Regions from separate parts of the Homo sapiens genome. Here region 1 is reported to be linked to region 2. Evidence: microRNA targets listed by miRTarBase, many of them from high-throughput screens and not tested one by one. Region 2 holds a microRNA gene; the other region holds the end of a gene's coding sequence.

What was found. Region 2 holds the annotated microRNA hsa-miR-5589-3p (UGCACAUGGCAACCUAGCUCCCA, at 1,559-1,581, opposite strand). A microRNA usually pairs through its seed, bases 2 to 8, with sites in the 3' UTR of a target mRNA and lowers its output. Matches are read on the target gene's strand: a 7mer-m8 pairs with bases 2 to 8, a 7mer-A1 pairs with bases 2 to 7 and ends in A, and an 8mer does both.
Region 1: miRTarBase lists MVB12B as a target of hsa-miR-5589-3p. Seed matches in the 3' UTR shown: 7mer-m8 at 2,708-2,714.

What each region holds. Positions count from the first base shown.
Region 1 is chr9:126,502,940-126,506,939 of GRCh38, forward strand. MVB12B (multivesicular body subunit 12B) reads left to right here. Exons shown (of 10, transcript NM_033446.3): 10 at 238-4,000. The coding sequence ends at 324. Among named protein-coding and RNA genes, the nearest start is that of NRON, 94 kb to the left of the region's middle.
Region 2 is chr19:10,035,972-10,039,971 of GRCh38, reverse strand. It overlaps MIR5589 (microRNA 5589), which reads right to left and starts at 1,618; the gene lies at 1,559-1,618.

The DNA.
Region 1 (4,000 bases), not on the chromosome of region 2:
TCATCACCACAGGAGCCTGTCACCCCCGCAGGCGTGTCCACGCACACACGCCACATGCACAGTTCAGGGGCCCACGAGGGCAGGCTCTGGCTGGCACCGGCCTGGCCAGCTGCGCCATGTCAAGATGCCCCACGAGGCGGCCCAGGCCTCTGCCTGATCTTGATCTGAGGCTGTGGAGGGGTTTCCCTAGTGTCCCATGGACTGACTGTGTCTCTCTGTCCCCACCCGCCCCTGCAGTACGAGTACAGCTTCCGCACAGAGCAGAGCGCAGCCGCCAGGCTCCCGCCCAGCCCCACCAGGTGTCAGCAGATCCCGCAGTCCTGAGGAGCCAGCGGCCACCTGCGGGGAGACCACCGCCGCCCAGACTACTGACGGCAGGGGCTGCTGCCCCCGCCTCCTCCTGCCGCCTCCGCCAGCCCTCCCTCCCACACTGCCCCAGCAGGGCTGGCCCGGAGACTGGGCAGCTAAGTGGGCGCATCCTGTCTTCAGCTGGCCTCACTGACACCCCGGCCTCCCTGGGGACATTGTTCATAACCATGACTAATCTGTGTGTGCTGTAGTGACCAGCGGCTCCTAACGTGTCTGTGTGATGACCAGTTGTCCTCCAAAAACCTCACTCACCACGGAGTCACCCTGAGGGCCCCGGGCAGTTGCCCTGGCCGCCCAGTGACGCCCACCGGCTCCCTCCGCTCCCTCCTGTCACCTACCAGGGCAGACCCCACTAAGCCGTTGAGTCTCTTCCTGGAAGACCCTGAGGGCCGGCAGCTTTGCCTAGGACTCTCCAGGGTCGCTGATCCTCCCCGGCCCAGGGCTGCCAGGAACAAGTTCCTCTCTGCAGGATCTCACAGCAGCCCTGAGAAGACATGGGAGGAAGAAGCCAGTGGCCCTGGGGTGGACCCTGCCCTTTGGACATCCCATGGACTTGTCACCCAGTCGCCTGGAAGTCGGGGAGCAGCACCCCTGCCCCCGGTGGAGGGGTTGTTGCTTTCTGGGGAGGAGGACGGTTGACGGCCCTGCTTGGATCCACCACCAGGACGCTGTGCTCGGCCATGGCGCGCCTCCCCCAAGGGCTCATCTGTGCAACAACCACATGCCAACAATAGCTCCAGGTGCCTCAGCCCCGTGCCCTGACCCGGGGACCACAGGGACACCCTCTGAGACGTGCTGGCCCCAGGAGGATACAGGCACACGGGCACCCAGCCCCTCTCAGAGCCAGGCGTGTCTTGACGGTATCTGCTGACGGGAACAAGTCATTCTGAAAGGTCCCTCTGACCCAGGTCACCAAATTTGGGCCAGAACTGGCACTTCCGAGTGCCCACTGGTGCTGGCGTCCTCAAAGTGCCGGGCGCCAAGTTCAGCCCCAGGTGCGTTTGCCTAGGCAGTGGTGGCTGCCATCCCTCGGGGCCCAGGCCCTCACCCGAAGGGCTGCCTCACTCTGTGGTGTCAGGCACTGGGCTGTGTCCTGATTCCTCAGAGTATGGGGACCTGACATCTTTGGGTCCCCAAGAGTTGGCTCTTGGATGTGGAGGCTTGATGCTGCGGTTGGGGGCTGCACTACCTGCGTCCGTGGAAGCCTCTGCCTCAGCGGGGACGGCCTCCTGCTGCAGGTCCTGGGCAGCCCACAGTAGTGCTAGCTGAGGCCCAGAGGAACGGGAGGAAAGGGAGGCAGCGCCGGACGGCGCAGCTGGCCAAGAGGCGGGCGGGGCCAGAAATACCTCATGCCCCTGCACCAGCCCCTCCGTCTCCAGGCCCCAGGCCTCTTTGTGGACCCATCTTCCTCCTCTGCCACCCCGATCTTCACTCGGATACCTCTTGATTTCTGTGGATAAGGGAAGCGGCCACTTCTCCCTCCCTGAGACCCGAGGATGCCCCTGGTGGGGGTGGCCTTCTCAGGACTCCTGGGTGGCACAGCAGCAGGACCTTGTCATGGGACTGATGCTGAGCAGGGAGGGGGCTGCCAGGCTGGCTGCCGATGCTCCGTTCACATAAGCCAGTGTGGTTCTGGGGACCTGAGGAGCCCTGTGGCACCCACAGGGGGCACCTATGTCTGCCGTGGCTCCTCGGGTGGTGCCCTGTGTGACAAAGCCCAACAGCAAGGGTGACTCCTGGCAGGTGGGGGCAGCAGGAGGGCAGAGGGCAGAGCTCTGGCCACTTCTGCCCACTTCATTAGGGTTTGTGAACTTTGTCCTTCACCTCTTTTCGTGCCCTGGTTGTGAGATTGCCTCTAACAGGTAATGCCAGGGGCCCTTCACTCCGCCCCCATGACTGGGAAGAGGCCTGTGGCAGCGCCGCTGGACCCTAGGAGGCTCAGAGGCAGTGGTGTGGGAGCCCTGTCTGCAAGGACGCAGAATAAGCAGTGAGGGCGGCTGCAGGAGAGGAAGGGGCTCCCACAGCCCCCACTGATGCCGCTGCAGGCCCCTGTCGAGCTGGGGTCCCAGCCAGGTGCCCCCGCATGCCCTCCTGCAGTTGCTGGATGGATAGGGACACCAGGAAGAGGACAAACTGCATGGACTCAAGCGAGCTGGAGCCATCTTCTCCATAGCATTACGGACTTAGCATAAGAGTAAATGACTGTGAACGTTGTAGTAAACGGCAGCTTAAGATAAGTAAGCAGAGACAGTGTTAAGGACGAGTTGGTGTCTGTGGTAGCTTTTAGGCTGCTCCTAACCCACCATTTATTGCCTTCTGAGAGGTGGGTGAGGACAAGCATGTGCCTGTGTGTGTGTGTGTGTGTGTGTGTATATGTGTGTGTGTGCACGCACATGCGTGTGTATAAGCCCACCTGAGTGGGGCTCGTGCAGGAGAACTGAGGCATGAAACTCTGGCTCAAACCTAGGAATTGAGAGCGTTTCTGTCTTTTGGGAGAGTACTTTTCTCCACGAGCCCTCTGGCCACTGTGGGAGGGAAGGACAAGGGTTCCCTTGGAAATGTGAAGGGTCTTGGCCTCATCCCTCAGGTCCCCCCACAGCACTTCCCACTACTGCTTCTGTCCCTGCTGGCAGCCTCTGTCCCTCCAGAACGGCTAACCAGAGCACACTGTCCCCACCGCCTCCCCTTTCTCTCTGGAAAGTTGAAGTATCTCCAAAGGCCTTGGAAATGGCACAAAGGTGATAAGGAGCAGGTGCTTTGCTGCAGTCTCCCTTGCAAATGTATAATTAAGGCCTTTCTTCCCACCCCAAGTCCAAGAACAAATGCCAGCCACGTCCTCCGCCACTTGGAGAGATGAGAACCCAGTGGGGTCACGTAAAGGAATTGCAGGTCGGTGAGAGGACAAGAGGGACTCCCATGTTCTAAGCACCTGTTCCTGGCCAGGCTCTAGGCCAGGCTCTCTAAGCACATTTCTCCTTTCATTCCCCCTAAAAACAGAGTGACCTGGAAGTAGATGTTCTTTGCTCCTTGTCAGAGTTGAAGAGGCTGACTTGGCCCACTGCTAAGCGGCAGAGGCAGGGCCAGCCATCCTGTCGCAAGCCCGTGCTGGGGCTGCCCTTTCTGTTTCCAGTCCAGTTACGGACTTCCCGGCCGCCACTGGGCCCTGCCGGTCACCAGGCCACTGTGCAGTGGGCGCAGAGCATGGTCAGGAGTGGCCTGCCCGTACTCCTCCACCCAGATGAGGGCCCTCCAGAGCCTGCAGGCATCTGTGGGGAATCCCAGCCTGCAGGTTCTTGGAGAAGCAGGTGAACCTAAGGATGAAAGCAAAGGAGGGCCTTGAGGAAGCAGCCCCCAGGCCTGGCAGCCACGCAGCGGCTGAGCTCATGAACTTGGTTCGCAGCCTGCCTTGCCCCTGGAGGCCACGCCAGGCGCTCACCCCTGAGCCCACAGCCCCTGCTTGGGCTGCCTGGCACCCTCAGGGTGGCCCGGCCTCCTCCTGCCACTCTGAGCACATGTCCGGGGGTTGCCACCAGAGACGGCTTTGTTCTCCCAGCTAAGGCCGTGGAGCTGCTGTGTGACTGTGTCAGGCCTGGACAAGGAAGACCCTTAGGGATGACGTCCCCGCTGCATA
Region 2 (4,000 bases):
AAGTGCTGGGATTACAGGTGTGAGCCACCATGCCCAGCCAGCTTGGCTAATTTTTTTTTTTTTTTTGGTAGAGAAGGGGTTTTGCCATGTTGTCCAGGCTGGTCTAGAACTCCTGGCCTCAAGTGATCCTCCTGCCTTGGTCTCCCAAAGCACTGGGATTACAGATGTGAGCCATAGCACCTGGTGCTTGTTTCTCTGTACTCAATCTTTGTGTCCCTGGTCTTCTGGCAGAGCTGGGAGGAAGGGGGCTCACCGAGCCTGGATGTCAACGCCCAGAGCCTCATCCTTGAGGTAAAAGAAAGTCTTATTTGGGACCAGCTGGACCTCAAAAGATGGGAGGACTGGGAGAAAAAAAAAAGCCATGGTCACCCTCAGTATTCTACCTGCTCCCTCGTCCCCTCCCAGTCCTGCTCCTTCCTTGGTGGCTCTGTCAAGCCCGAAGGGCTGCAACACCAGCACCCAACACTTAGCATCCAGCTCAGGCCCTGGGTTACAGCAGAGGTTCCCCTTGAGACCTCCTTTCTATTCCAAGTCCTGTCCCTGGCGTATTCATCTTGCTCACCCCACCCACACCTTTCTCACCATATTCCTTCACATCAAAGGCAGCCTCGAACTTCTGCTTGGGTGTACTTTGGTAGCTGGCTTCGATGGTCCAGGTCCCCAAACTGAGGCACAGAAAGTTAAGAGAGATGGAGACAGAGAATGACAGCCTCCTTTGCCACCCCTCGGGCTCCCAGACCTGACAAGGGCACCTGACAAGCTCTGGGAGGTGAAAGGAGCTGAAAAAGAAGCCATCCTTGGCCATCAGACTCTGGCTAATCACGGTGATTCCCTTTGGGTTCTGTGGGGATAGGGGGTGGGGCTGGTGACTGCCCTCTGGGAGGGCCCTGGTGGCTCATGCCCCCAGGACTTCAGCACACCATGTAACCCCAGTGTCCAGGATCCACCACCACCCCCCACCCCTCATCGGGAAAGACCACCTTGATGTCCAGAGTGAATGTCCTGGTCACAGGGTCCATCTTGTGGTTCACAGTGAACACCCGGTAGTGAACTAGGGGAGAAGGAGGACTCTGAGTATTGGGTAGAGGAAGGGAAAGAGAGAGAGAGAGTTTGCATCTTGGGCAGTGGCGGGGTGGGGGGCACTTATGCATAGAGAGAGATCTTGGGAGGTGGAGAAGATTTTAGGGGATGGGAGTATCTCAGACATTGGGAGAGACGGGATGAGAGCCAGTGATTGCCCCGAGCCAAGTGCCTCGGGGCTGTACCCAAGTACTCAGGGGTGTAGATGGTCTTCTCCGTCTGGATAAAGATGTAGCCAGCATGAAGAGCCACCAGCACCATCTTCTCCATGAATGAGGAGCCCGAGGTGGGTGCCCAAGTTGCCCGGATGATGACATATTGCTGCCCTGGTTTTGGGAGGTACATCAGGCTCTCGGGAACCTGAGAGAGATATATATCCATACTCCTCAGGCTCTGCTGGGGTCTCCCTGGCTGGGGGTAAAGCCCTGGGACAGATCCTGGGAGGAGCAATTGACTGAGGGTCTTCTGACTCTGCCTTTGGGAGCTAGGTTGCCATGTGCAGTTGTGTAGGTTGCTCACTGCACAAGAGCACCCAGCCAAAGGAAGGACGAAATCAAGTCCATGCTCATCTTCCCAAGCTACCAACAGAAGGCACCTTTTATAGTTCTCAGAGAGGCATCAAATGGGCTAGTGGAGGCTTCCTGGAGCCCAGGCTTAGGGACTTTTGGCTTCTAAATGCACAGGATATTAGAGGAGTGGTAAGTACTTTGGGCCCTTTATCTACTCTCTGGACAGAAAGTCTGCCCCTTTCTACCTTTATTGCTGACCTGTAGCCTCCCTTTGGGGTCACACATTCCAGCCTGTCACCCACCGTCACAGGTGCCTGGTCCATAAAGTTGTTTCCTGGTGAGAGAATGAGCTGGCTCCTTGCCAACACTGTCTTCCTCATGGGGAAGTCCCACACTGTGAGGTTCACCTTGAGGGTCCTTGTGAGGGGCTGTCTGGAGTCTGAGTGGGCCTGAATGTGAATGCTCTCCGGACTGCCAACCCTCAGAACTCGGGGGGTCACCAGGATGTACCTGCCAGTAGACTAACACAAGGGCATTAAGGGACTTGAGTAGGGAAAATGACACCGAACACGAGTCATAAGCTGGAATCACGCAGACATCAGATGTGCAGGAAGCCGGCTGAGCCCCCTCCATTCCCCAGACTCACAGAGGCTCAGCGTGGATGAGGGGGCTTCCCAAAAGAAGCAGAATCCACCCTAGGGGCCAGGGCATTTCCATGGTGGGTGGGAGGGTGACAGGAGGCCACAGGCTGCAGATGTCTGTCCTCTTGTCTGTCCTCTTGTCTGCCCTGGCCCTGGCCTGTTTGCCTTGACTTGTAGTGGCTGAGTTAATATCTAAACAGGTGTGGGGCAAGAATCCCTATAAATCCAATGGGGCGGAGTTGGGGGTGTTTCTTACTTCCCAGCCAAGCCTCCAAGATATGCTTGAGAAGTGCCCCATCCGCTTCCTTGGGGGCCAGAGTGGTAGGAGAACTGCCTGTCCCATGAGCCATGAGGGTCTTATCCACGCCCCTCTCCCCTTTTTTTCTGAGACAGAGTCTGGCTCTGTCACCCAGGCTGGAGTGCAATGGCACAATGTCAGCTCACTGTAACCTCTGTCTCCCACGTTCAAGTAATTCTCATGCCTCAGTCTCCCAAGTAGCGGGGATTACACGCATGGGCCAGCAAGCTCATTTTGTACTTAGTACAAAAATACTAATTTTTGTATTTTTAATAGAGACAGGGTTTCACCACGTTGGCCAGGCTGGTCTCGAACTCCTGACCTCAAGTGATCCACCCGCCTCAACCTCCCAAAGTGCTGGGATTACGGGCATGAGCCACTGTGCCTGGCCATGAAGGTCATATCCTAAAGCCTTCCCCTCCGCCAGCAAGGAGCTTTGCACACCCAGGACACTGAACTCAGGGCTTGCTTGGGATTGGCTGGCAGGAGGAGAGCAAACATCTTTCTACCCTAGCCTGGATGGATTTTCCCTACTTTTGCCTTTGTGAAATTGGCAAAACAGGGCAGCTGCACAAACAGGGGAGGTGCTGGCATTTTTTCCCTATTTCCCAATTCCGGGAGTGAGCAGCATGTGGCATTTGACCATCTGACTCCAGGATCCACCATAACGAAACCTCCTGAGAAATCCATAGGTCAAAGTCCTCTTCTTGGGCTTCAAATCCTTGCGCTATATGGATTTCGTCATCCTTGCAGGAGACAGTTATGCTTAGTAAATTGTGACCATTGTCTATTGTTTCCTAAGTCATGCCAGAGTCTCTGGGTTCCTTTTCCAGAAGGCAAATTATACATATTAAACCAGGGAAGGAAACACATCATGCTTGAAGCATTCCTGGAAAAAGGCTTTCTCTGTCCTCAAATAATTCTCAATGTTTAGCAGGCTTATTAAAGAGAATGTTGAGACGGCTTTGTGGTGTCTGCCTCTAAGAAGCAGTTGGGCTTGATGATGAGTCTGTTTGAATCTGCACCCTACAGTGATGTCAATTCAGCCAGCTTGGGAAATTTTGCCTATTGAAGGGTCCCTGATCCCCCCATCAAATGATAATATAATTTTCTTTTTCTTTAAAGATGGATCTCACTCTGTTGCCCAGGCTGTAGTGCAGTGGTGCGATCTTGGTTCACTGCAACCTTTGCCTCTCAGGTTCAAGCCATCTCCCGCCACAGCCTCCTGAGTATCTGGGATTACAGGCGTGCACCACCACATCCGGCTAATTTTTTGTATTTTTAGTAGAGACGCAGTTTCACCATGTTGGCCAGGCTGGTCTCAAACGCCTGACCTCATGATCCGCCCACTTCTGCCTCCCAAAGTACTGGGATTACAGGCATGAGCCACTGCATCCAGCAGATAATATACATTTATCCGGCAAAGATTCATCAAGCATTTACTTTGACCCTGGCCCCTACTTAGCATACTG